Linked DNA regions of Homo sapiens: regions 1 and 2 are each linked to region 3. Evidence: fine-mapped expression QTL. A gene starts in region 3. Each other region holds a variant in brackets. All regions are shown on one strand. Distances are between the middles of the regions. Region 1 holds the start of LOC105375457 (a long non-coding RNA gene). Region 2 overlaps LOC105375456 (a long non-coding RNA gene). Region 3 holds the start of LSMEM1 (leucine rich single-pass membrane protein 1).

Region 1 (8,189 bases), 34 kb before region 3:
GTAAATTTCTCCTGTTAACCACTTTATCAGCTCCCAGCCAAAAGATCTTCCCTTGCTTACTGATGTCTAAAATTCCATCTTTAGCAGAGTCATTTCTTTCTTTGGTTTAATATAAGGAGTATCTCATCATTATAGAGTACGTGGCAGGTTACAAAGACCTTTACATAATGATGTCATTTTTATGACAATCCAGTGACATCAATAAGGCAGGGATTATTGACTCCCATTTTTGAGATAAAGAAATGGAGGTTCACTGCTGCTAGGTGACTTGCTCCAGAAGAGATGACTGAACTCTCCAGGGAGCCTATGGACTCACCGCTTAGGGGTAGAGAGGAGGAACCTCTTTGGTCATGTCCCTGGGGGTGGGCAGTGAAAGCTGATCCATCAAGAGAGAAGCAAGAGTCACCTCCAAATGGGCTGAGAGGGACGGACAGCCACGGGCCACCTGGTACTGAGTTCTGTTGCTGGACTAGGGACTTTATGAGGACAAACACTGTTTTCAGTCATCTCTTTGTTCTCATGCTCTAGAACATGCTTGGTATATAGTGGACACCTGAGGAATATTTGTTGAAGGAATTGAGACTTTTCAAAATATGACAAATATCCACTGTTGGAATGAGCTTCCCTGAAGAGTTGTGTGAGTTCTAGCACTGTCAGAGTTTAAGAAAAAATGATAAATATCTGTTGACTAATATTAATGGCTAACATTGTTTACTATGTGCTGAGTACTGAGCTAAGTACTTTACTTGTATTGTTTCATGTATTCCTCATTCCAACCACATGAAATAGGTTCTATCATTAATCACATTGAAACCAAGGCATGGAAGAGTGAAGTTACTTGCTCAAGAATCCATTGCAAATAGTATGGCCAGGATTTGAACCCTGGAATACTGAGTTAGAGCCTTGGATCTTAATCATGTTGTCAGTCGTTTCCCAGGTGAGGCAGGAGTCTGAAGTAGGTTACCCCTTAAGAAATTTTCAACTATTTAAGATTCTCTGGTGGTTGGCCGTAAGATTAGTACTACCACACGGAGAAAGCTGGGAACAAGAACTGGTTGTAGACTGGGTGTGGTGGTTCATGCCTGTAATCCCAGCACTTTGGGAGGACTGCTTGAGCCCAGGAGTTTGAGACCAGCCTAGGCAACACAGCAAGACCTCATTTCTACAAACATAAATAAGTAAATTAGCTGGGATACATGCGTCTGTATCCCAGCTACTCAGGAGGCTGAGACGGGAGGATTGCTTGAGCCCAGGAGGTCAAGGCTGCAGTGAGCTGTGATGGCACCACTGTACTCCAGCCTGGATGACAGAGGGAGACCCATCTCAAAAAAAGCCCCCCAAAAACGGCCGAGTGTGGTGGCTCATGCCTGTAATCCCAGCACTTTGGGAGGTCGAGGTGTGTGGACCACTTGTCAGGAGTTCGAGACCAGCCTGGCCAACATGATGAACCCCGTCTTTACTAAAAATACATAAATTAGCCAGGCATGGTGGTGAACGCCTGTAATCCCTCGGGAGGCTTTGGCAGGAGAATTGCTTGAACCCGGGAGGTGGAGGTTGCAGTGAACCGAGATCGCACCATGGCACTCTAGCCTGGGTGACAAGAGTGAAACTCTGTTTCAAAAAAAAAAAAAAACCCAAAAAACAAACACCATCCCCCACCAAAAAAACAAAAACAAAAACAAAAAAACAAAACTAGTTGTAGAATGTAGAGAGGTTGGTAAAGAACAAGTTGATTTTGGTTATGTTTGGTATGAAGAGTCAGGATATCCAAATGGAAAAGTCCACTGATATTCTTTATGTTCAACAAAAAGATAATTCCTACTTACGCTGTTGCCATAAAAAGTTCTTCCAACATAATGCGTCATAACTATCCTAGTTTGGCTGTGTGTATTATGGTACTTATGGCTCACAGTACCCTGTTAACACAGTCTCATATTTTATTATTGATAATACTGCAGCTTTGTGAGATAAGCAACATTCCCATTTTAGAAGACAATTAAACACTGACTGTCTTTTGTCAGAAATTTCATTACAGAAAGTGTATGTAATTTCAAAACTGAAAACCACAAAGAAGTATCTTCTACACAACAAAAAGAAAAAAGCAAACAAAATATATCTTAAGGCTTAAAGAGTTCTAACTAAATTTGCCCGCCGAATCATTTCTTAACAAACAGGGATCTCAAATTTAGCATGCTGTATTATCACCATTCTTGGCAATAAAACAAAAATTGCAAACATATTAAGAAAACAATGCAATCTAAAACACAACAAGTGATAATCCATGTAAAAAATTATTTGATGGAATAACATTACTATTTAATAATAAAGTTCTGCTAAAGCTTTAGAAATATCAGAAAAAACTTACACTGGCAAACATTCATCAGGCAGTCAACAACTGAATGTCCCCTGTATACTGATACTAGGGGTGAAGAGACTCTAAAAAAAAGGGGAACAAGGCAAAATTTAACTTCAAGGGGCCTTTTCTCGCAGCATTGCAAATAAAACCCATGACTCTGGACATAAAAAAGCAACAGTGACACTGGGGACTACTAGAGGCGGGAGGGATGGAGGGGGAAAGAGTTGAAAAACTACTGGGTGCTATGCTCACTACCTAGGTGACGGGATCATTCATATCCCAAACCTCAGCATCATGCAATATAACCATGTAACAAACCTGTACATTATACCCTGAATCTAAAAGTTGAAATTATAAAAAAGCAAACAAGAAAACCCATGACTCCTAGGAACAAGCACTCAGGTTCCCATATGACCAAAGCCAGCCAGAGGCAAACTTGGAATCAGATAGGCCTAGGCTTTCTTTTTTTTTTTTTTTTTTTTTTGAAACAGGGTCTCGCTCTGTCACCCAGGCTGGAGTGCAGTGGCGCAATCTCGGCTCACTGCAAGCTCCGCTTCCCGAGTTCATGCCATTCTCCTGCCTCAGCCTCCCGAGTAGCTGGGACTACAGGCGCCCGCCACCACGCCCGGCTAATTTTTTATATTTTTAGTAGAGACGGGGTTTCACCGTGTTAGCCAGGATGGTCTCGATCTCCTGACCTTGTGATCCGCCCACCTTGGCCTCCCAGAGTGCTAGGATTACAGGTGTGAGTTACCCCGCCCGGCCGGCCTAGGCTTTCATCACAACAGACGCACTGTTTACCAATGGTACGACCTTGGGGAAGTTGCAAAACCTCTCTAAGCTCATTTCTTCATCCACAAAATGGTAAAACTAATCTTTTCTGCGTAGGGTTGTTGTAAGAATTACATGAGAGGTGTGAAAACAGTCTAGAACAGTGGCAGTGTGGACTTGCAATAAATGTTAGCCTCATCCTTTTCCCCACATTAGTTCCTTTGCTTTTAAGAAAACTGCTAAAATACAGAGGAAATTGACTCCCTCATTCAATTAAAAACACAGTTATTGTCTACTGGGCCACTATGTACAGATGTATAGGTTGTTCCCTGCTGAAGAGAGATTGGTGACTGGATTCCAGCCCATAAACACTCATCAGACTTGGTGTTCTGTTTCTAATTTGCACAAAGGTGCTACATGTGTGTTTCAGAAGTGACAAAACTGGGCTTTGCCCACA[A/T]GTAGCATGTAGCTTGTATCTCATGTCTGAGGGGAAAACAGACAAGTAATCAAGAACTACAATACATATTAAAAAAAAAGAAGTAAAAAAACCCTACAATACATATAATTAATGCTAGTCTAAAGAAGGCACTGCAAGAACAAAAAAGAAAGACATTTAAATCAGACAATTTGGGGGGCCCAGGATTAGTGACCGAGGATCAGTAACTTAAAGGATGATGGGGAGATCGTGGGGAAGGATGTTCTAGGCAGAGGAGTGACATTTAATTATTAATACATTTATTCATTCAGTAAATGTGTTTTGTTAGTTCATGTCTTTTATTAACTCATACACAATTAATTGTCTTCTGGTTTGCTGAAGCAATGAGACATTTGTCACAATAATGTCTGTCAAAGTGGCTGGCCATAAACGCTCCAGTACCACATTCATCTGAAGAGCACTCTAGATGAAGGCGACTTATTTTGCCATTCTCATCCACCTTACAGTATTTCAGGACAGCCAGCTTCACCTTCTTTCGCTTACGCTTATTCTTCTCAGGAGTGGTGTAAACATTCAGTAAAAAATAATTGAATATCTAAGTGCCACGTACTGTTCCAGTACTGAAGATACAATAGTGAATAAAACAGACAGGATCTCTTTCTTGTAATTCTAACATTCTAGTAGAAGAGACAAAAAATAATTGGGCCAAAAAATATTAAGTAGTGCGATGTACTTTGGGAGAATATAAGCAGGGTGGAGGTGCTGGTGGTAGGTGGGGTGAGGATGCGACCTTAGAATGGAGAGTGGAAGAGTGGGAGAGTAGGAAGGCCTCTTCAGGTAGGTGTCATTTAAGCTCAGATCTGAATGGCAAGTGTGGGAAGCTCGGGTTGATCATATCAGGCAGAGGGAGGAGCTGTTGCAAGTCTTAAGTGGGGAATGAACTTTGTGTTTTTAAGTTGGCAAAGACCAGTGTGGCTGAAATGCAGTGGATGAAAAGAGGGGCAGGAGATGCAATATGGAGAGAGAGGTATGTGCCAAACCTAGGTAAGGCCTGGAAGCTTGAGAGTGGTGAGCTCAGAGACCTGCTAAGAGTTTGATATGGCATTAGGAAAGGGACTGTGTTAGGTGATGAGAGAAGTGATTTGGGAGATACAGGCAAGAAACAGATTCCGACAAGCCCTACATGGAGGATCTGGGAGGTATTATTTCTGCTCAGTGCTATGCAGAGAATCCCAAGGAGGCCATGACTAAAGTCATTCAAAGAAAACCTTTCATGTTTATGCCTTCAAGGAAGGTATGAATACTGAATCTTATCTTTATTACTTGTTCTTGAATCAAAGTCATCAATGAGAACTTAGAACTCTTCTCAGGCGTGCCCCTAAATTCTGATTAATGTAAGATTTATTTTTGCAACATTTGAGTATACTTACCCTGATGGTGATTTCTGTTCCATGGAATGTTAAACTAAGTTGTTTTGTAAAAGAAGAATATATTTTACAATGACTTAAATGTTGAGGCAGCACATAATGTCATGTTGGTAACAAATATGTGATATTTATTTATTAGAGCATGAGAGTATTTTGCCTCCTGATATATGAGGCAGACATTGCTATTTGTCTACCTTATATCCATGGTTTCCCCTTCATTCTTAACAACAGAACCTCAATTTTGTTTGCGAATGAGCCCAACCGAAAATACTTGTGTTCTAAACTTCCTTGCAGCTAGGGATCATCCTGTGACACAGTTCTGGTCAACATGTAGGTGGAAGTTTCTAGGGAGTGTGGTCTTTCCTGAAGAAAAAGGCAAAGTCTGGAGAAAGCCCTTTTTCCTGTTCCCTTTCGTGCTTCCCCTTCCTTTCTGGTATTTGTAATCATTTAGTGACTTGATGTTTGGAGTCTTCTAATTTCTTTAAACATATTGCAAAATAGTATGTGGAGCTGAAGACCACTGTCCCATGAGGAGGTGGGCTACATCTTTGTGATGTTTGCACTGGTCTGGAGCTAAACTGCAGGCATAAAACTATAGTAAGGTAATTTTATCAAAAGTACAGTATCTCTCAGAATTCATTATACTGAAGGCTGTACTTCATGTTTGTAGTGATAAGTAGTTTCTCCCTTTCCTTGATCCAGAATGTATGTATGTAGTGATACATAAGTTTCTCCCTTTCCTTGATCCAGAAAAATCTAGTCAACAATTATTTCTTAAATGTTCATTTAACTATATATATACTGACTATAATTTCAATTTCAAATGTAACACTTCCTTTTGTGCCATGAGGGATACAGCAAGATTTTTTCAAGTTCCTGGGCCTGTAGATTTAAAAAAAAAAAAAAAAGAAAGAAAAGTAAGAAAAAAAGAAAAGAAATTAAAAAGAGGAAAAGATTTTTGTTCTTGGGAAGCTGATAATTTCATGAGATGACAGATGTATTCACAAATAAATGTAAAACAAGTACGTATATGATGTGGTGGGCCATGGCCAGGCCTGCCGCAGAACGACTAAGTGGATGTGAAGGGATTTGGAAAAAAAGCCCCTGCCCCAAATGCAAAGCACACGTTTCCAGGGCTGGAACCTGGATGTTAGGCCTAGGTGATGTGACTCCAGAGTGGCAAAACTGTTGCCTTATGTATAGTATAAATTGTTTCTGGATGGTGAAGAGCCTAGGGTTATAAAAGTTATTGAGTCTACAATTCTGTGAGACATCTCATTCTGTATAGGCCCTGTCACTGAGTTGCAGTGTGCCTCTAGATACAAGGAGTCAGTGTGAGCTGCTTCCTCCCCCACAACCTGCCTCCGTATTTGGTTTCTGTGCTCTGTGCAGTTTACTGGCTGCTTCAGGATTAAACAAAGTAAAAGCAACCCTGAAATGTTGCCCATTAAATAGCATCTTTGAGTAGGCCGTGTGGGGAGGTAATAAGTGCCATTAGGGCATTATTAGGATGAGTGTCAAAGAGTTGTGAGGAGGAAGAAACTTCTGGCTGGAGGCTTCAGGAAGGTGGCAGCATGAGCTACATCTTGAACGGTGGATAAAATTTCTTAAGGTGAAGATGGGAGGAAAGGCATTACAAGAACAGGAAAGAATATGAATGAGGAAATGGAGGTAGGAGAAGAGAGCCGTGTATTGGAAATGAAAAGCAGTCCTGTTTGGCTGAAGAACAAGAACTGTATGAGGAAGCAGTGAAAGATGAGGCTGGAAAGGGAGTCAGGGCCAGGCTAAAAGGGTTGGCATTTAAAGTTAGTCATGGGAGCCATGGAATGTTTTTGAGCAACTATTAAAGCAGGTGGATTAGTAAAATAGGGAACACACAAATAAATCTGGCAGCATTACTGTGCATGAAACATGGATGAAAAGACTGGGAGATCGCTTAAAATGCCCAGGCATGAACTGAGGTCACATGTGATCACAGAATAGGACAGGAATTTAAGAGTGCTATTTTAAAACTAATTGCTTTGCGGGTGGGGAGGGGGTGGTGCATCAAAGGGAAAAAAGACTATGAATTTGAGTTTTGGAATTTAACATATGGGAGGATAATAAATAGTACAGTGAACAAAGGGAAGACAGGAAGAAGGAAATATAGTATTCGTTTCAGAGATGTTGGGTTGAGGCACAAGTGGAACATTCTGGTGGAAATTTGCTACAGGCAATTGAAAATAGAATAGAGCTCAGCTGAGAGGTGGAGTGGCGGATGACTCACCTACATTGAGGTGAGTCAGGGACTTTGATCTGTCATAAGCATAGTATATGAACCTAATAACAGGCTCTAAATACTAGACAAATGTCCTAACAAGGAAGACAGAGATCTAGGAGTGCCTTGAGAAAAAAGGCAGCACTGCGATTATTGATCTGTATAACTTGTGTTTGTTTTACCAGCTGTGAAATTCTCAGAACTGGCAGGTAGTATTGTCAAGGGACACATTCTTGTATAGAAACCCACAACGCTGAATCGTCATATATTCCTAGTCTAGAATCTGAGATATACACGAACTCCACAACTAAGTAGACGAAAGCATCCCTTTTTTTGGGGGGGGGGGGGGATGGGGGGCACATAACCCTGAACCACGGTCCAATTACAGGTACAGTACTGATGATGGCTTAAGTAGTTCATGGAACTAGTTAAAACTAAAACCATGGAAATGTTACCCAGGAGAGGTAAGGCTGCGTGCCTGGCAGGTGCCGCAGGGAAGTAGGGGAAAGGTTAAGGAGAACACCAGCCTCCGGAGAAAGAGAAGCAAAGGTGATTGCATAGCTGCCAGCTGGAAGCCGACTCTCGTCATAGGGCATACTCGCCCCACTGTGCATCGCCGGTGCCTACCTCACCCAGTTCCAAGGCGGGGGCGCGCCGAGGCAGGGGTGGGGTCACCAGGAGAAAAGCAAGTGGGCAGAAAAGCCCGTTGGGAAGAGACGGCTGGGAGGAGGCCCCGGCCCCAGCCTTACTACGTTTCCCAGAATTCAGTGAGGCCACGAAGACAGGCTCCCTGGGCGCGGACGGAAGACTGGCCGCATGGGATTTGTAGGTAGGATCCGCGCCCCGCCCGACGGAGGCGTCCAGTGGGGAGGTGTGCAGGGATTGGTTGGGAAGCGCTCAAGCCCCGCCCACAGAGTGACGTCAGGTGGCGGTATTGCTACT
Region 2 (8,189 bases), 100 kb before region 3:
ATATGATTCTATTTATATGAAGTGTCCAGAATAGGGAATCTATAGAAACAGAAAGCAGATTAGTGGTTTCCAGGATCTGGACAAATGGGAAGTAAACTGCTAATAAGATTGCTTTTTGGGGTGATGAAAATGTTCCAAAATTCATTGTGGTGATAGTTGCACAATTCTGTGAATATACTATAAACCCATTGAATTGTGTACTTTAAGTGGGGGAATCATATGTGAGTTATTTCTCAATAACACTGTTAATAAAATATTTCATTAAAAAAATTACATTGATCCTGACCAGAACTATCCCTGAAAAATGTTGCCAGTTATGAGAAAGTGGTATATTTTCTATTTTTTTTAGGTTTGGACTTCTAAAATTTCTCTTCCAATATTTGGAATTCCTTTTAGGTGAACACTGGGAATTTGAGCAAGCTGTTGTGCTTGCTCAGCCCTACTCCACTCCAGCACTATAGTTGTAGCAGGAGTTTTCCTGCTCATCCGCTTCTACCCTTTAATAGAAAATAGTCTACCAATCCAAGCCTTTACATTATGTCTGGGGGCCATTACCCCCTTATTTACAGCGATCTGCGCTCTGACACAAAATGATATTTAAAAAATCATAGCGTTCTTCACCTCAAGCCAGCTGGGCCTTATAATAGTCACAATTGGCATTAATCAACCACATCTAGCATTCCTTAACATCTGCACGCATGCCATTTTTAAAGCTATATTATTTATATGTTCAGGCTCCATCAGCCATAACCTCAATGACGAACAAGACATCCAAAAAATAGGAGGACTGTTCAAGACTTTACCCTTCACTTCCTCCTCCCTTACTATTGGTAGCCTTGCACTTACAGGTATGCCTTTCCTCACAGGCTTTAACTCTAAAGACCTTATTATAGAAACCGCAAATACATCATACACCAACACCTGAGCCCTTTCTATTGCTCTTATTGCCACCTCCTTAACAGCTGTCTATAGTACCTGTATTATTTTCTTCGTTCTCATAGGACAATCTCGCTTCACAACTCTGATTATTATTAACGAAAATAACCCTTCCTAATTAACTCAATTAAGCACCTAACAATACAGCAGTATCTTCTCTGGGTTCCTCATCACCAACAGTACTATTCCTGCTTCATCCCCCCAAACAATTATACCACTCCACTTAAAGCTCAAAGCCCTAGGTGTAACCACCTTAGGCCTCTTACTAGCAATGGAGCTTAATCTCATAACTAATAACCTCAAACTAAAGTACCCATTACAGACATTCAGCTTCTCCAATATACTAGGTTTTTATTCAGCCACAATCAACCATTCAACCCCCCACTCAAGCCTATTCACAAACCAAAATGTGGCTTCACTTCTACTAGACGTAATTTGACTAGAAAAGTCTATACCAATGACCATCTCACAAATCTAAGTTTCAGCCTCCATTACTGTATCTACTCAAAAAGGCCTAATAAAACTCTACTTTCTCTCTTTTTTTATCCCATCCCTTCTAACACTACTATTAATTATCTAATCTATTACCCCAAGTATTTTCAATTGCAACATAAATACTAACAAATAATGATCAACTAGCAACTACCACTAATCAACACCCATAACTGTAGAAGGCAGCCACACCCACAGAATCCTCACACAACCCCACCCCCTCACCCTCAAAAATTATCCAACTCTCTACACTTTAAAATCAATTGTGATCACCAGCCCATTGTACTCAACTATTCACTGAACCAACATCAACTCTATTAATCATCCTAATAATAAACCTCCTCAAATGTCTATACTTGACCCTCGTGTTTCAGGGTATTCCTTAATAGCCATTGCCGCAGTATAACCCAAAACAACCATCATACCACCCAAATAAATCAAAAAGACTATTAACCCCACGAAAGCCCCACCAAAATTCAACACAATACCACAACCCACAGCACCACTAATAATTAGCCCTAGGCCTCCATAAATAGGAGAAGGTTTCAAAGAAAAGCCTACGAACTCTATAACCAAGAGAACATTTAATAAAAATAAAGCATATACCATTATTCCACATGGACTATAACCATGACCTAATGATATGAAAAACCATCATTGTACTTCAACTGTAAGAATACTGATGACGAATACCCGCAAAAGACACCCGCTAATAAAAATTAACTATTCAGTCATTGATCTTCCCACAGCCTCCAGCATTTCTACCTGATGAAACTTTGGCTCACTTCTTGGTGCCTGCCTAATTCTCCAAATCATCACAGGATTATTTTTGGCCATGCACTGTTCATCAGACACCTCAACTGCCTTCTCTTCAGTCACTCATATCAGCTGAGAGGTAAACTACGGATAAATGGTCTGCTATTTTCATGCTAATGGTGCTTCAATATTTTTCATCTGCCTCTTCTTACACATTGGCCAAGGGTTATACTACGGGTCATTACTATTCCCAGAAACCTGAAATATTGGCATTATTCTCCTATTCACAACTATAGCAACAACATTCATAGGCTATGTGCTCCCATGAGCCCAAATATCATTCTGAGGCACTACAGTAATTACAAATTTACTATCAGCCATCCCATATATTGGAACTGACTTTGTACAATGAATCTGAGGGGGATTCTCATTTGACAAAGCCACCCTCACACGATTTTTTGCCTTCCATTTCATCTTACCTTTCGTCATTACAGCTCTAGCAACTGTTCACCTTTTATTCTTGCATGAAACAGAATCTAACAACCCTTCAGGAGTTTCATCAGACCCCGACAAAATCACTTCCCCCCGACAATATACAACCAAAGATGTTCTAGGTTTAATTTTTCTCCTCCTCCTTCCCGACCTCCTGAGCGACCCAGATAATTACACTTTAGCCAACCCCCTCAATACCCCACCCCACATTAAGCCAGAGCGGTACTTTTTGTTTGCATATGCAATCTTACGATCTATCCCTAACAAATTAGGAGGCGTACTGGCCCTCGTATATTCCATTCTCATTCTAGCAGTTATTCCAGTACTTCACATGTCTAAACAACAAAGCATAATAAGTTATTAAGTCAATGCCTATTCTGAATCCTAGTGGCTGACCTGCTTACACTCACATGAATCAGAGGGCAGCCAGTCAAATATCCTTTCATTGCCATCGGACAGACAGCATCTATCATGTACTTCTCTACCATTCTCACCCTTATACCACTCACTACCGTAATTGAAAATAAACTTCTTAAATGAAAATGTCCTTGTAGTACAATTCCATACTCTGGTCTTATAAACCAGAAATGGAGAATCCCCTCCCCGGGGCAACTCAGGGAGAAAGCATTCCCGCTTCACCGTCAACAGCCAAAGCTGAAATTCTAATTAAACTACTGCCTGAATTTTTTCACAGCACACACTTTAACTACTATGTCAGTATTAACCAACTAACAGTACTAATTGATTAGTGGTGTCTGAGAGATGTTTGTGGCTATGGCTGTGGCATTGGCAGTTGAGCTTCCCATGGATATGAGGAAACTCCTAATTATTGTAGCCAAGGAATCTGCAGCTTCTTGACACCCATCTATCCATCCATCTGTCCATTCGTCTATTCATCCACTTGTCTACCCATCCACCCATCCACCCACCCCTCCATTCCTCCATCCCTCTCTATCCTTCCACCCACCCATCCATCCATCCAGTTAACATCTACCAGTAAGTACCTACTGTATGTTAGACCTTGTGTAATTGCTGGAGACACAATGGAGAACACAACAGTCATCATCTTATCCTTAAGCTTATAGTACAGCAGTGAGACAGTCAAATAAAAAGGCCATGGCCACACAATGTGATTTACATGTTGGAGAGGTGAGCATAGGGGTTATGAAGAACATAGGTCTCCCTTGATAAGTCAATCCATTCAGTGCCCACTTCATCCAGTCCTCTTTCTACAGTTGACCTCCTTCAGTTTTCTTTCTGTTTTCTCTCTCCACTGTAACCACTTTCCCTTATTAACTTTAAGATATATCCCTTTAGTGAGTAATCAGAATTTCAAATTCTTACTCCATATAAAGCATTTTAATGATGTACTTTTATGATATTAGAATTTTGTATCAGACCCTTGCTGCTATATTATAAATAGATGACCACACTGTCAAGGTTACAACCACATAAATACTCCAGAAACATTGTAGCAAGGAGAAACTCAAGTTCATTGAAATAATTGGATTAATTACCTTCTCTTCAGAGACTTGAAATTTTTCTTCCCCTAGCAACTCTCTTTAGAGAAAGTTTTACTGTATAGCTGTATGCATTCATCTCCATCTGTCTGAGATGGCTGGTTTGGGTTTTCCTA[T/C]GTGCTCTTAGCAGTTCTGTGAAATTGTTTGCTATTGCATCTGCAGTTCTATTATGATTTGAGATATTTTGAAAGAAGAGTTAGTTTGTTGCTGACTGCATTATGTTGACCACATCCTCACCTGTGTCGATTTACTTCAGAGTTCCTTTTTTTCTAAAACCACATTATCGATCTTTGTAATAATAGGTTTTTAGGTATTACAGATGCTTTTTCATAATTTATTTTATTTTCATTTACATAGTCTCCCAATTTAAAAGAAGCCAATGGTATTCATACTTCAGGAAGATCTGGGCAAGTTCGAGAGTTTGAGTCCTTTGAATAGAACACTGAAGGACATATGCTACTTCTAGTTTGCTTTACAATTTCTCAGCACTGACATTTTAATTTTATTTTTTAGAGACAGGGTTTTGTCATGTTGCCCAGGCTGGCCTCGAACCCCTGAGCTCAAGTGATCCATCCGCCTTGGCCTCCCAAAGTGCTGGGATTACAGGTGTGAACCACTGTGCCTGGCTCGAAATTTTTGAAATTTAAGAAATACTGTATAGATCTAAATATTTATTTGAGAGATGGAGAGAAGAGCAATTGAGTGCTAGTGATCTATATAATGTAACTAAAGTGAAGATGCCATTATAATGTTTGAACATGATATGTAAATTTTATGGTTTGTTTCTAATCTAAATGTTACTTTGAAAAGTTATGGACAAGTCCAGTTGTTTTTGCCTCAGCAGAGAAGTTTCCTCAAATTGAAACTAATTAAGAAAAACATCTAAAAACTTTAATTACTCAAGAAATATTATCTAATTTGGTATTACTGTCTACAGGAGTCGAATTATGCAAAAATCTTGCTTACAACTACATAATTAGTGATTTTATTGAAATGAAGACAGGAAAAAATAACATATGGAAAAAATATAAAATACACTGTGAATTAAATGCCTTTATTTACTGCTCTTCTCAACATCTCCAGACTATCAATGGACCACCCAGACATGCACAATAATAATTTAATTTTATCATGTTTGATATTTTGCCAAATTTTACATTTTATACTTATCTTTTTTCTATTTTGTCATTAAGCAGGTTTTTCAAAGTAGGAGAAGAGAACATATTTTAATTAACTGTTTGTTGGCTTGACTTATAACTTTCATTATTTTATTTATTTATTTTCTGTAGAGATGGGGTTTCACCATGTTGGCCAGGCTGTTCTTGAACTCCTGGCCTCAAATGATCTGCCTGCAGAGGCCTCACAGAGTGCTGGGATTACAGGCATGAGCCACCGCACCCAGCTTGATTTATAGCTTTTAAATGTTTAGACTTACAGTATGTAGCTTTCCATCTGTACTCTGGCCACAGGCTCCACAAGTGTTTGAGGAAAGCCTTAGATTTTTCATGCCTTAGTTTTTTGTTTGTTTGTTTGTTTGTTTTTAGACAGAGTCTTGCTTTGTCTGTCACCTAGGCTGGAGTGCAGTGGTGCAATCTCGGCTCACTGCAACTTCCGCCTCCCCGGTTCAAGCGATTCTCCTGCCTCAGCCTCCCGAGTAGCTGGGACTACAGGCGCGTGCTACCACACCCAGCTAACTTTTTGTACTTTTAGTATAGACGGGGTTTCACCGTGTTAGCCAGGATGGTCTTGATCTCCTGACCTCGTGACCCGCCCGCTTCGGCCTCCCAAAGTGCTAGGATTACAGGCGTGAGCCACTGTGCCCGGCAGATATATATATATATTTTAATAGCACTATATTCACATGATTAAAAACTTTAAAAATATATAGCAAAAGTCAAATTGTGAAAAGCCTAATTGCCACTCTAATTTCATCCATCACATTCTCACCTCTGCCTGCAAACCATTTCTTGGATAATCACATTTATAAAATTATATATGAATATAGCTTTGTATTCTCCTCCCTCCCTTTTATATAAATGTTAGCATTCTGTGTATATTGTCTTATACCTTGCCCTTTCCACTTAACATATTTTGGAATATTTCCATATTAGTTCATCGAGAAGTTTCTCAATCTTTTAAAACAGTTGCATAGTAGTCCATTGTATGGATATATAACAACTTATTATTTGACTATTCCAAGGACATTTGGGTCATTTCCAATCTGTTACTATTACACACAACACTGACATGCCTGTTTAGTATTACTGCTCCTTGCTCCCAAAATGTCAGCAGCAGCACCCTCTGTCACAGTGGTCAGCCAATGTGTGCTCTTTCACCTTTCCAACTGCCTCTGAGTGGGAAGAGGGATGGTCATGTCTCCAACATTTATATTTGTCATTGCATTTTATTTGTAATTTGTTTGAATTTCTAATTTTACTAATCTTTGTAAGTTTAATTATGTATTAGTTTCCTGTGGCTGCTGTAACACATTGCTGCAGCCTTGGTGGCTTAAAACAACGAAATTTACTGTCTCACAATGCTGGGTGCCAGAATTCTGAAATCAAGTCTGCAAAAAAGGTGTCTGCAGGGTCACATCCCTTTCAGACTCTAGAGGAGAATCCATTCCTTGCCTCTTCCAGCTTCTGGTGGCTGTAAGAGCTCCTTGGCTTGCAGCTATATCACTCCAGTCTCTGCCTGCAGCTTCACATGGCCTTCCTCTCTTTATATCTTCTCTGTATGTCACTTAAAAACTCCCTCTGCCTCTCTCTTATTGCACATGTGGTCTTATTATACATGTGATCATATTACACATGTGATTGCATTTAGGGCCCACTCAAATAATTCAGGGTAAATGCCTCCTTTCAAGATCCTTAACTTAATCTTTTGTCATATAAATGAATATTCCCAGGTCCCAGGGATTAGAACATGAACAGGTCTTTGGGGCCACCATTTAGCTTACTGCAATAGATGTTGCCAAGTTGTCCTCCAAAAAGTTTGAACCAAATTTATACTTTCTTTAGTGATATATGAGTGCCTGTTCCCCACAGTCTTACCAACAGAATGTTGTCAAACTTCTGGATTTTACTAATCTGATAGGGAAAATAATATCTTAGTATAGCTTCAATTGCATTTCTCTTATGTGTGAGTTTGAACATTTGTATATATTTATGAGCCTTGAATGTTTATTTCTATGTGAACTATCTGCTCATGTCCTGTGCTCATTTTTCCCCCCTGGATTCTTGGTCTTTTTTTAAAAAAAAAAACAACACACACACACACAATTTCTAAGCACATCTTATATACCAAGATTACCCTTTCATCTTTAAATGAAATACAAACTTTCTTGATTTTTTTTACTTTGTAGTGTCTGTATCATGCACATAAATGTAGTTGTAGTTCTTTTCCCCCTTTATATAGTTGAATCTTTTATGGCTTCTGTTTTCCTTTTAGTTAGAAAGTATTCCCCTCTCTAAAGTTATATAGCAATTCTCTCAAGCTTACTTCTAGAACTTTTATGCTTCATTTTTTTCCCAGTTTATCTTGAAGTCTTTGATGACCTTAGAGTTTATCCTTATGTGTTGTGTGAGATATAGATCCAACTAAATTTATTCCAGGGCAGGATGTTTCCTGCACTTAGCTTTCTCAGATTTATGAAATATCCTACCTTATAAAAGGCTAAATACTTTGGTATCATGTGTCTAAAGGGAAGCATAAAAGAACAAGTTAAAATTTGAATTGGTGCCTCCAGTATGGCTAACAGCTATCTATCAAAATATACTAACCGGCCATTTATAGGGCATTATTAATTATGATATATCCTTCTAATTAAATACAATTTGCCCTATAGTTAATTATTCTTGCATGCTAGACCCTGTTATAAGTAATTTAATTGTTAATATGTGTTTGAGCTTTACAACACTGCTATGAGATAGATGGTGTTATTACCCCAATTTTAGAAATTGAGGTAATAACACCACAGATTATCAAATGGAG
Region 3 (8,189 bases):
AAAGGTTGCTAACCTTAACATCTGAGAGCAGTAACACTGATTTTATCTGCTGTATGAGACTTTGTGCATTTTACTTTGAAATAAAGATTTTTTTCCACACTGAAAGTGCTTCTCTTCTAATAGAAGAAATATTATTTATGGCTTTGAGGTACAGAGTCCAAAATGACTAGGCCAGGTGGGCAGGGAGACAAAGCTTTATGTGTATATTTACAAACATTAAAGTAGATGAAAAGAATGTAGCAATACATAATTGGGATTAAGGTTTCTGACTTTCAAGAATATTTCTGCTTGGCAACATGCAGTGTGGCTCATGCCTATAATCAGCACTCTGGGGAGGCTGAGGCGGGAGGATGGCATGAGCCCAGTTTGAGACCAGCCTGGGCAACATAGCGAGACCCTGTCTCTACCAGAAATTTAAAAAATGAGTGTGGTGGTGTGTGCTTCTACTCTTTATCTACTTGGGTGCTGAGGCAAGAGGGTAACTTGAGCCCAGGAGGTCAAAGCTGCAGTGAGCCGTGATTGTGCCACTCCAGCCTGGGTGACGAGTGAGACCTTGTCTCAAAAGCAAAACAAAAAAGAATATTGCTGCTTGTTTGCCCATGAGGTATATTTCTTTCATTTTATGAAAAGCATTTTGACAACACGTTAACATTTAATAAACTTTAGATTAAAATATATAGTGCAAGCAACATGCCATTTCAAATCCGTAGACTTGTTTCTTTGATACTCTTGCTGTAGGTCGCCGTGAGGGGTAGGGAAGCATATATACTGTAGGGAGAAGTATCAAAATCATTTAAGGTCTTTTTTCCAAACTAGTGTTCCCCTCCCACATCCCAACAACTCTTGGAAGTCTGGTGCTCCCTCTAGGTGAAAATCATTTGCTGGCTTATGGAGTCACTGTTGCTGAGTCCCATCCCCCAGTTACAGTGCAGTGGAAAACAGGTTTAGAATCTAGAACTTGTTTGTATGTTGTCACTTGGTTATGTTCCAAGTAGGTTAGAACCATGGAAAAGAGATTGCAAATGGTAGTTTCTTCTAGATATTCAAATGCATATATGTATGTACATGTAATTATAAATAAATAATGAATTTTTATTAAAGTGTTGTATGAACATAGGTTTTTGTTTGTTTTTGAGACAGTCTCCCTCTGTTGCGCAGGCTGGGGTGCAGTAGCGCAATCTTGGCTCACTGTAACCTCTGCCTTCAGGGTCCAAACGATTCTCCTGCCTCAGCCTCCTGAGTTGCTGGGATTACAGGTGTGTTCCACCACACCTGGCTAATTTATATTTTTAGTTGTGATGGGGTTTCACCATGTTGGCCAGGCTGGTCTTGAACTCCTGACCTCAAGTGATCTGCCCGCCTTGGTCTCCCAAAGTGTTGGGATTACAGGCATGAGCCACCGTGCCCAGCCTGAACATAGTTTAATGGTACTTCAAGGCTAATAAGGAAAGCCCCTTGCTCCATCCTTTCCTATTCCTCAGTCCCATCCCAAGAGACATTCAGCCTTCAGTTTTTTCTAGCTCGGTTCTTTCAGCCTTCAGTTTTTGGTTTTAGGTTTCTAAATAATATGATTATACAGCCATTTATTTTTTAGGTGTTTGTCAACTTACTATTAAGACAGGTGAAAATTTCTTTTATTGTTTCACATCCTTCTAATATTATTTTGGTTAGATCATGTACCTGTTTGCATAGCTGTGATCATACTTGTATGTTCACTCGTGAATTAATTTAATGTGCTTACATTTTCATTCTCATACAACGTTTTGTCTTGGAGTTAATGCTCTTTTTTTTGGCTTTTTATGCACATCATTGATTCTTCCCAAACAGTCCCAAATAAATTTGTCACAACTTTTCTTGATTCTGTACTTGTTTCAATCTAGACTAGTTTCTCTCATCCAATTGTATAGCAGTTTTCCTGAGACAGCACTATCGTGAGGATTTGTTTTTCTTTCTCTTGAATTGTATCCCTCATTTTCTGGATCCCATGTCTTAATTTACTTCTTTGTTAACATGGAGCACTTCTTTCAGTAGTTTCTTGGGAATGAGTGCGTGAGAGATCAGTCAGTTATTTAGTGACTTCATATTTCTGAAAGATAGTTTGCATGGAAATTCTAGGTGGAAAATCAAATTTGGAATTTTTGAAAATTTTGACAAGTGTATTCAAATTCAGAATTTTGAAGGCATTGCTCTATTCTAATTTGCAAAATCTTGAGATATCTGATGCAGTTTTTATTTTTATTTCTTTGTTTTCTCAGCATCTCTGTTTCTAGTGTTCTAAAATTGCATGATACTGTGCTTTGGTGGGATTGGCAACCTGGAAAATATTAAGTTCTTCATCTCTTCTCTTCCTCCTCATTTTCTTTGTTCTGGAACTCTATGACATAGTGGAGCTCCCAAATTGAATCTTGGGCCTTATTTATTTTTTTTTTTTCTGTCTGGGATATTTCTCTAAGACAATTTTCCAATTTGTATTGCATTTTGTTTTTGGCTAGCATTAAATTACTTGCCTCTGTGTAGCTCCATGCCACACTCTTGCCTCTAAATCCTAGGCCTGCCTGAATTCTGCAGGATCAGTCCTACTGTCACTCATCTGTGATAGCCCTGCTAAGGCAGATACCACTCTTCTTACCATGTTCAATACATTTATTGAGCTCTTCAGTATTGTTTCTTCCTATTTTAATTTTTCTGGTTTTGTAATTTGTACTCCTGCTTTTTTACTGGGCTTTTGGGAGGAAGAAGGTATAGAGTGTTAATCTGCATGTTGAATTTATATGCAGGTGACTTTATTCATGAAACTTGTGGTAACTGCTAGACAAGGGTGGCTGGGTGTTCAATGTGTAAGAATGCTTGTGTTTTCTTGAAAGTAGAAAAATGTTGTGTTATAGACTAGTTGTTCATTGCTTGATTCTTGATTAATTTTGCCCGCTTTCATTATTTTGAGGCTCAAGCATTTTGAAGTATTCATTGTCTGTGACTCCTCTTTGATGGGTACTAAATTTCCTGGGAGTGAATTTAGATACCCTGAGATGTAATATATGAAAGAAAAAGCAAATACTTGAGAATGTCCCTAGATTAGACACTTCATGTGAGAATATCTCTTTTTGTGACCCAAAACTCTTTTTTTTTCTTTTGAGATGAAGTTTCGTTTTTGTTGCCCAGGCTGGAGTCCAATGGTATAATCTGCCTCAGCCTCCTGAGTTGCTGGGATTACATGCATGTGCCACCACACCCGGCTAATTTTGTATTTTTAGTAGAGATGGGGTTTCTCCTTGTTGGTCAGGCTGGTCTCGAACTTCCGACCTCAGTTAATCTGCCTGTCTCGGCCTCCCAAAGTGCTGGGAATACAGGCATGAGCCACCGCACTCGGCCCCAAAACTCTTCTTAAAGGTGGTCTTGCAGGTATGTTATAGTTAAAATGAAGTAGGTTGTCTTGCTTTGTTCTTAAGTGGCTTTCCAGAAGTCTAACTGGTCTAAAGGCAGTCTTATCCCCCTCACTGGTGTATAGTTCAATTCAGACTTGAATGCGAGGTATGGGTTTACATCTCATCTCTGCCACTTATAATCAGTGTATCCCTCAACAATTAAATTCCTTAGTCTCCATTTCCTTCCTCCTTCAGGGGAAGTTAATATTCCACAAAGTTAGAAGTTACAGGAGAGGAAAAGTAGTAAACGCCCCAAAATGAGGCAGTTACTTCTATTATATCTTCAAAGGATACATGGCTCAAGGCAGATCAGGTAGTTGGGAGATTTCTTAAAAACAGCATAATAGCTAACATGAACATTTTCATTATTCAGAGAAATTTGACATAGCTTTTTAACGTATGTTTCTGAGAAAAGTTACTAGTTATATTGTCTTCCTCCAAGAATTAGTCTTTGGGTACAGATGAGGCTTGAAAAAATGACATTCCCTCTTAGACTAGGTAGTGTGAAGGGAAAAAAAAAATGACATTCCTCTTCCCCCAAAGCAGAGTGAGGTCCGTATGGGATATAGGTGTAAAGAAAATTTTGGGCCGGGCATGGTGGCTCAAGTTTGTAATCCCAGCACTTTGGGAGGCCGAGGTGGGTGGATCACTTGAGGTCAGGAGTTCAAGACTAGCCTGACCAACATGGTGAAACCCCATCTCTACTAAAAATAAAGAAATTAGCCAGCTATGGTGGCACATACCTGTAATCCCAGCTACTTGGGAGGCTGAGGCAGGAGAATCTGGAAGCAGGAAGGTCTCAGTAGGCTGGGATCATGCCACTGCGCTCCAGCCTGGGCAACACAGCAAGACTCTGTCTCAAAGAAAATTTTGTGGAACACCTATTTTCTCACTGACATGAAAAATGTTTCAAAGATGAATAATGTCCATCAAGCTATGGCAATGGAAGTGAGGATGATAAAGGATTGCACAGTTGTTCACAACCTCACTGTTAGTATCCTGCTGAGATAGTTGGTCTCCTCATCACTGTAGCATCTTTTATGTACAGCAGAGGGCAGAAGCTCCTTGGCATGTATGTGAGGGAACCACATATATGGAAGGCTGTTATTCCTGAGAAAGGAGGATGTGCAGACACTCACAGAACAAAGCCTTTGTAAAGGAAAGGCGGCCGATGAGATGGAGTGCTTCCTTCACCTGTGGTGGGTCTGTATCCATGAAATCGCCCACTCACAATCGCTTTTTGTAGCTACTGGAAGCACTAGGCGTCTGACCTGCCATCATCCTTGTTATGATGTCATAATCATATTCTGTCCGTGTTTATTGCAGTTCTCTGGTTTGTCTGGAGTGTTTGCAAGTCAGTCATCATAGTGGCAGCTTCCGCCTGCTACAGGATATTTATATATGGAAGCATACCATGGCAGGAGTGCTGGAAAGGTGGTGTCAGCTAACAGTTGCTTCAGCCAGATAAGGACGGTAACTTCAGTCCAATAAAAACCTCATCAGTTACCAACTAAATCAGGGCATGGTGTTTTTTTGTTGTTTTCTTTTTAAAGCATAGTTTTAGTAATATATTTACTAAAAACCTTAGACATTATGAAAAAAGTCAGGATTTGGAATCTTACACTGCTTGGCTAAATTGACACAATATAGACCAACAGTTTCATCCTGGGGCTTATGGGTCTCATAGGAGCACCCGTATGCTGAAGAAAGGCAAAGAGAGAACTACAGAATTTGTAGAAAAGTTTTGTTGTAGTTGCTTCTGAACAATTAGTTTTTGTTTGTTTGTTTTGTTTTGTTTTGTTTTTCTGGTAACCTAGCAGTCAAAGCTCACATTTTTGTAAGTAATTTGCATGCTATTACTCTACTGAGACTGAATTATGATTCTCGAGTCTGGGAAGTTTTTGTTGCATGTGCTCTGTGTTTTTCATTTTTGATAGAAATGATTTAGACTTGATTTTAAAAATTACTTCCTGAATGTGAAGAGGCATTGACTGGGAAATGAAATTAAAGAACAAATTACCATGACTCATTCAATAACACTGCTTATTAGCTTTGAATTATGCCCTATTATAACAATTCTGATTTTGTGGCAAGCAATACTGGTGTGAGTTATTTCTGTGGTTTGATACCAAGCACCTGCCTGGTTAAAAAATAAAGCACCAGGCAATTTTTCATAGACAATTATCTTTATTTGTTGGAATATTTATTTGTAAATAGTCAAAGAATTCTTAAATGACAAAAAATCAACTGTTAGCAGTGATCTAAACCAGAGGAAAATGAAATTACTTACATGTTTCCAGTCAAGGTATAAGAAAGGGTTCTGTTAAAGGGATGCTGCTTTAGCCAATCTTGGTGAATAAGCAAATTTGCACACTGGAGTTGAAAGGAGGGTCAAGTTAGTGTGATGAAGAATTGCTAGTAACACTGGCTTCTCCAGCCTTGCTGGTTGTTCCTAGATGCCCTCATTTGGAGATGCCAAAGATAGCAACTACTGGGTGTCAAACAGCCGTGGGGCCTGGTTTTAAGGCCATGTGATCTTGTATCCCTTTACTAGCAGCCTCATGAGTCATTTGCAAGTCATTTGCAGGCTCTTGGAGCCCTGGAACAGCACCCAACTCAGTTTTCTCTGCTAGTTCTTTATTTTTCCATTTGCGTGTTGCAGCTCATTAAAAAAATATTGGAATAGCATATATTTACATTGTGACTTCACTCTAAAGAAGACATTTTCTTTCAAAGCACGTCATGGCTCACTAGGTTGTTGTCTTAGTTTTTTTTGGAGTCACCTTTTGAGTAGATAGCAAGACCAGTAATATGGAGATTTTATTAGCTGTACTCTTAAAGTCAGTTTTTGTGGCCATGATTTTCTAGCTAGGTCTCTATTTTGTAAACATTGATTAAGCCTCAGTATGAAATTGAAGCAACAGCAGATACATTCCTGAAGGGGAAGCTAAGGCTCAAGGCTATTAAGTCAGAGATCCAAAAATGAACCATGCTTCAGTTACCACACCTAAAATAGAAGCTGTGTGCAGAACAGTGGTCCTGTGATGTGACACATAAAACTTTTTTTCCTGGTCACATATTACTGTTTGGTCAAATATTAGTATAAATGGATGATAAAATATGAAACACATCTAAAAGAATTGTTTTAAAATCTGTGACTATGCATGAGTGAATATTTTGGGGCCTTGGTTTTAACTGCAAAAGGATAAGATTTGACTGACCTCTAAGGCCCTTTTACTCTATTTGCTGCTGCTTTTTAATTTTTTTTAATTGTCATATCAAGTCATTTCCTTAGGAATGCTCTATGAAGTATATTTGGAATTCAGTAATGTCAATAAAGTGCTATGGTAGTATCTTATCTGAAAACTCAGGGAATTGTTTGTTCTTGTTAATTAAAATTTCAAGATAAGTGAAACACACTTTTTTAGTTTTAACCCTAAAAAAAATTTTTAGTCCATGACTTTTTGAGCTCACTTTCTTAGCTAGGGTTCTGGTAGCACATTTTTCACAAGTACCAGTAGTTTTAGGTATTACTGGGAAATTGTTTTTTTAATATTTTAGACTAAGTTTAAATTGCTCAGTAAGTGTCTGATACTTTTTTTCCCCACATCTTCTTTAGGTGTATACTTTTTTTTTTTTTTTATGAATTTGGTTTCTCCCAACTCTATATTGCTCTTCATTCTGTAGATGAGTTTTAAAGGAAATTTTTGCAACAACAGAAAGTAAACAGTGTGTTGTCAAATACACACAGGCACCATATTTATCGCATTGACTTTACTAGAGTCCAGATAGACATCACATGAGGATTTTTATCCTCAATCTTATTTCTGTTCATGTACTTATTATTAACTGCCTCCAATTCTTTTGAAAATGGTGAGATTTAAATCCTAAATAAACATTTCAGGTGTTCCATCTTAACATAAGTCACCAACTTCTAAACCTGGCACTGGGCATTTGAAGAATAGGATTCGTCCCTACTCTAAGGAGTTTTCAGTCTATCGGGAAATCAAAGATGTAAGCAAATAGATGCAATAAAATACTACAGATGTTCTGATAGAAGAATGTAAAGAATCCAGCAAAGGCAAAAGGAAAGACAGGTTGGTTCTCTCTTCCTAGGGGAAGTGATGTTTGAGCTGAGTCTTGAGGCAGGATTAGGAAGGGATATAGAAAAGAAAAGTAGCACAAAGCAAGACTCATTGAATGCTGAACAAAAGGCCCGATTCCAGCTCTGCTGCCAGGCAAATGTGTGATCCTGGGCATTTACCTCGCCGAGCTTCCATTTCCTCATTTGCGGAAAGGATGGGAACTAAAGCACATCTAACACCCTTTCTAGATCCAAACATCCTCTATCACGATTAGACTTGATAACCATGAAAGGAAAAGCTTTTATAGTAATTGAAATTTGTCTTTCTAGAGGCTTCTTTTCACATAATTAAATGGCCACAAGTTCTCTGTTGTGCTAGAGATACATCTCCACATAAACCTTTTAAACTCTTCAGGATTTTCAGTGTTGCTTGCAGTTGTGCTGTCGTTAGAGAATATTACTTTCAATATTTAATAAACCTCAAGCTATTACATAAGTGACCTCAGTCTAAGGGAAACCCAGGTGGAAGAGATCTCAGAGGTCCTGAAGTCTAGCAGCATTCCTCTCTATAGCAGCTAAGTTTGCTAAGATTGTTGTCTTGGGGACTCACAGTCAGCATCTTATGGCTAAAGGAATTGTGTGAAGAGAAGGACTTACATGCCATATGGAGGGAGGCTATAAAA

What was found.
Region 1: its variant is fine-mapped to the expression of LSMEM1 in whole blood (INTERVAL, PIP above 0.99).
Region 2: its variant is fine-mapped to the expression of LSMEM1 in whole blood (INTERVAL, PIP 0.94).

The regions. Positions count from the first base shown.
Region 1 is chr7:112,442,245-112,450,433 of GRCh38, forward strand. LOC105375457 (a long non-coding RNA gene) reads right to left here and starts at 1,106. Exons shown (of 3, transcript XR_001745325.2): 1 at 61-1,106. It also overlaps a transcript of IFRD1 not described here. RefSeq lists enhancers at 7,306-8,123, 8,124-8,189. The variant A/T (reference allele first, on the strand shown) is at 3,585.
Region 2 is chr7:112,372,214-112,380,402 of GRCh38, forward strand. All of the region lies in intron 2 of LOC105375456 (a long non-coding RNA gene), which reads right to left. It also overlaps the pseudogene MTND5P8, the pseudogene MTND6P24 and the pseudogene MTCYBP24. Among named protein-coding and RNA genes, the nearest start is that of ZNF277-AS1, 26 kb to the left of the region's middle. The variant T/C (reference allele first, on the strand shown) is at 4,313.
Region 3 is chr7:112,476,088-112,484,276 of GRCh38, forward strand. LSMEM1 (leucine rich single-pass membrane protein 1) reads left to right here and starts at 4,904. Exons shown (of 4, transcript NM_182597.3): 1 at 4,904-5,259. It overlaps IFRD1 (interferon related developmental regulator 1), which reads left to right. Exons shown (of 12, transcript NM_001550.4): 12 at 1-1,116.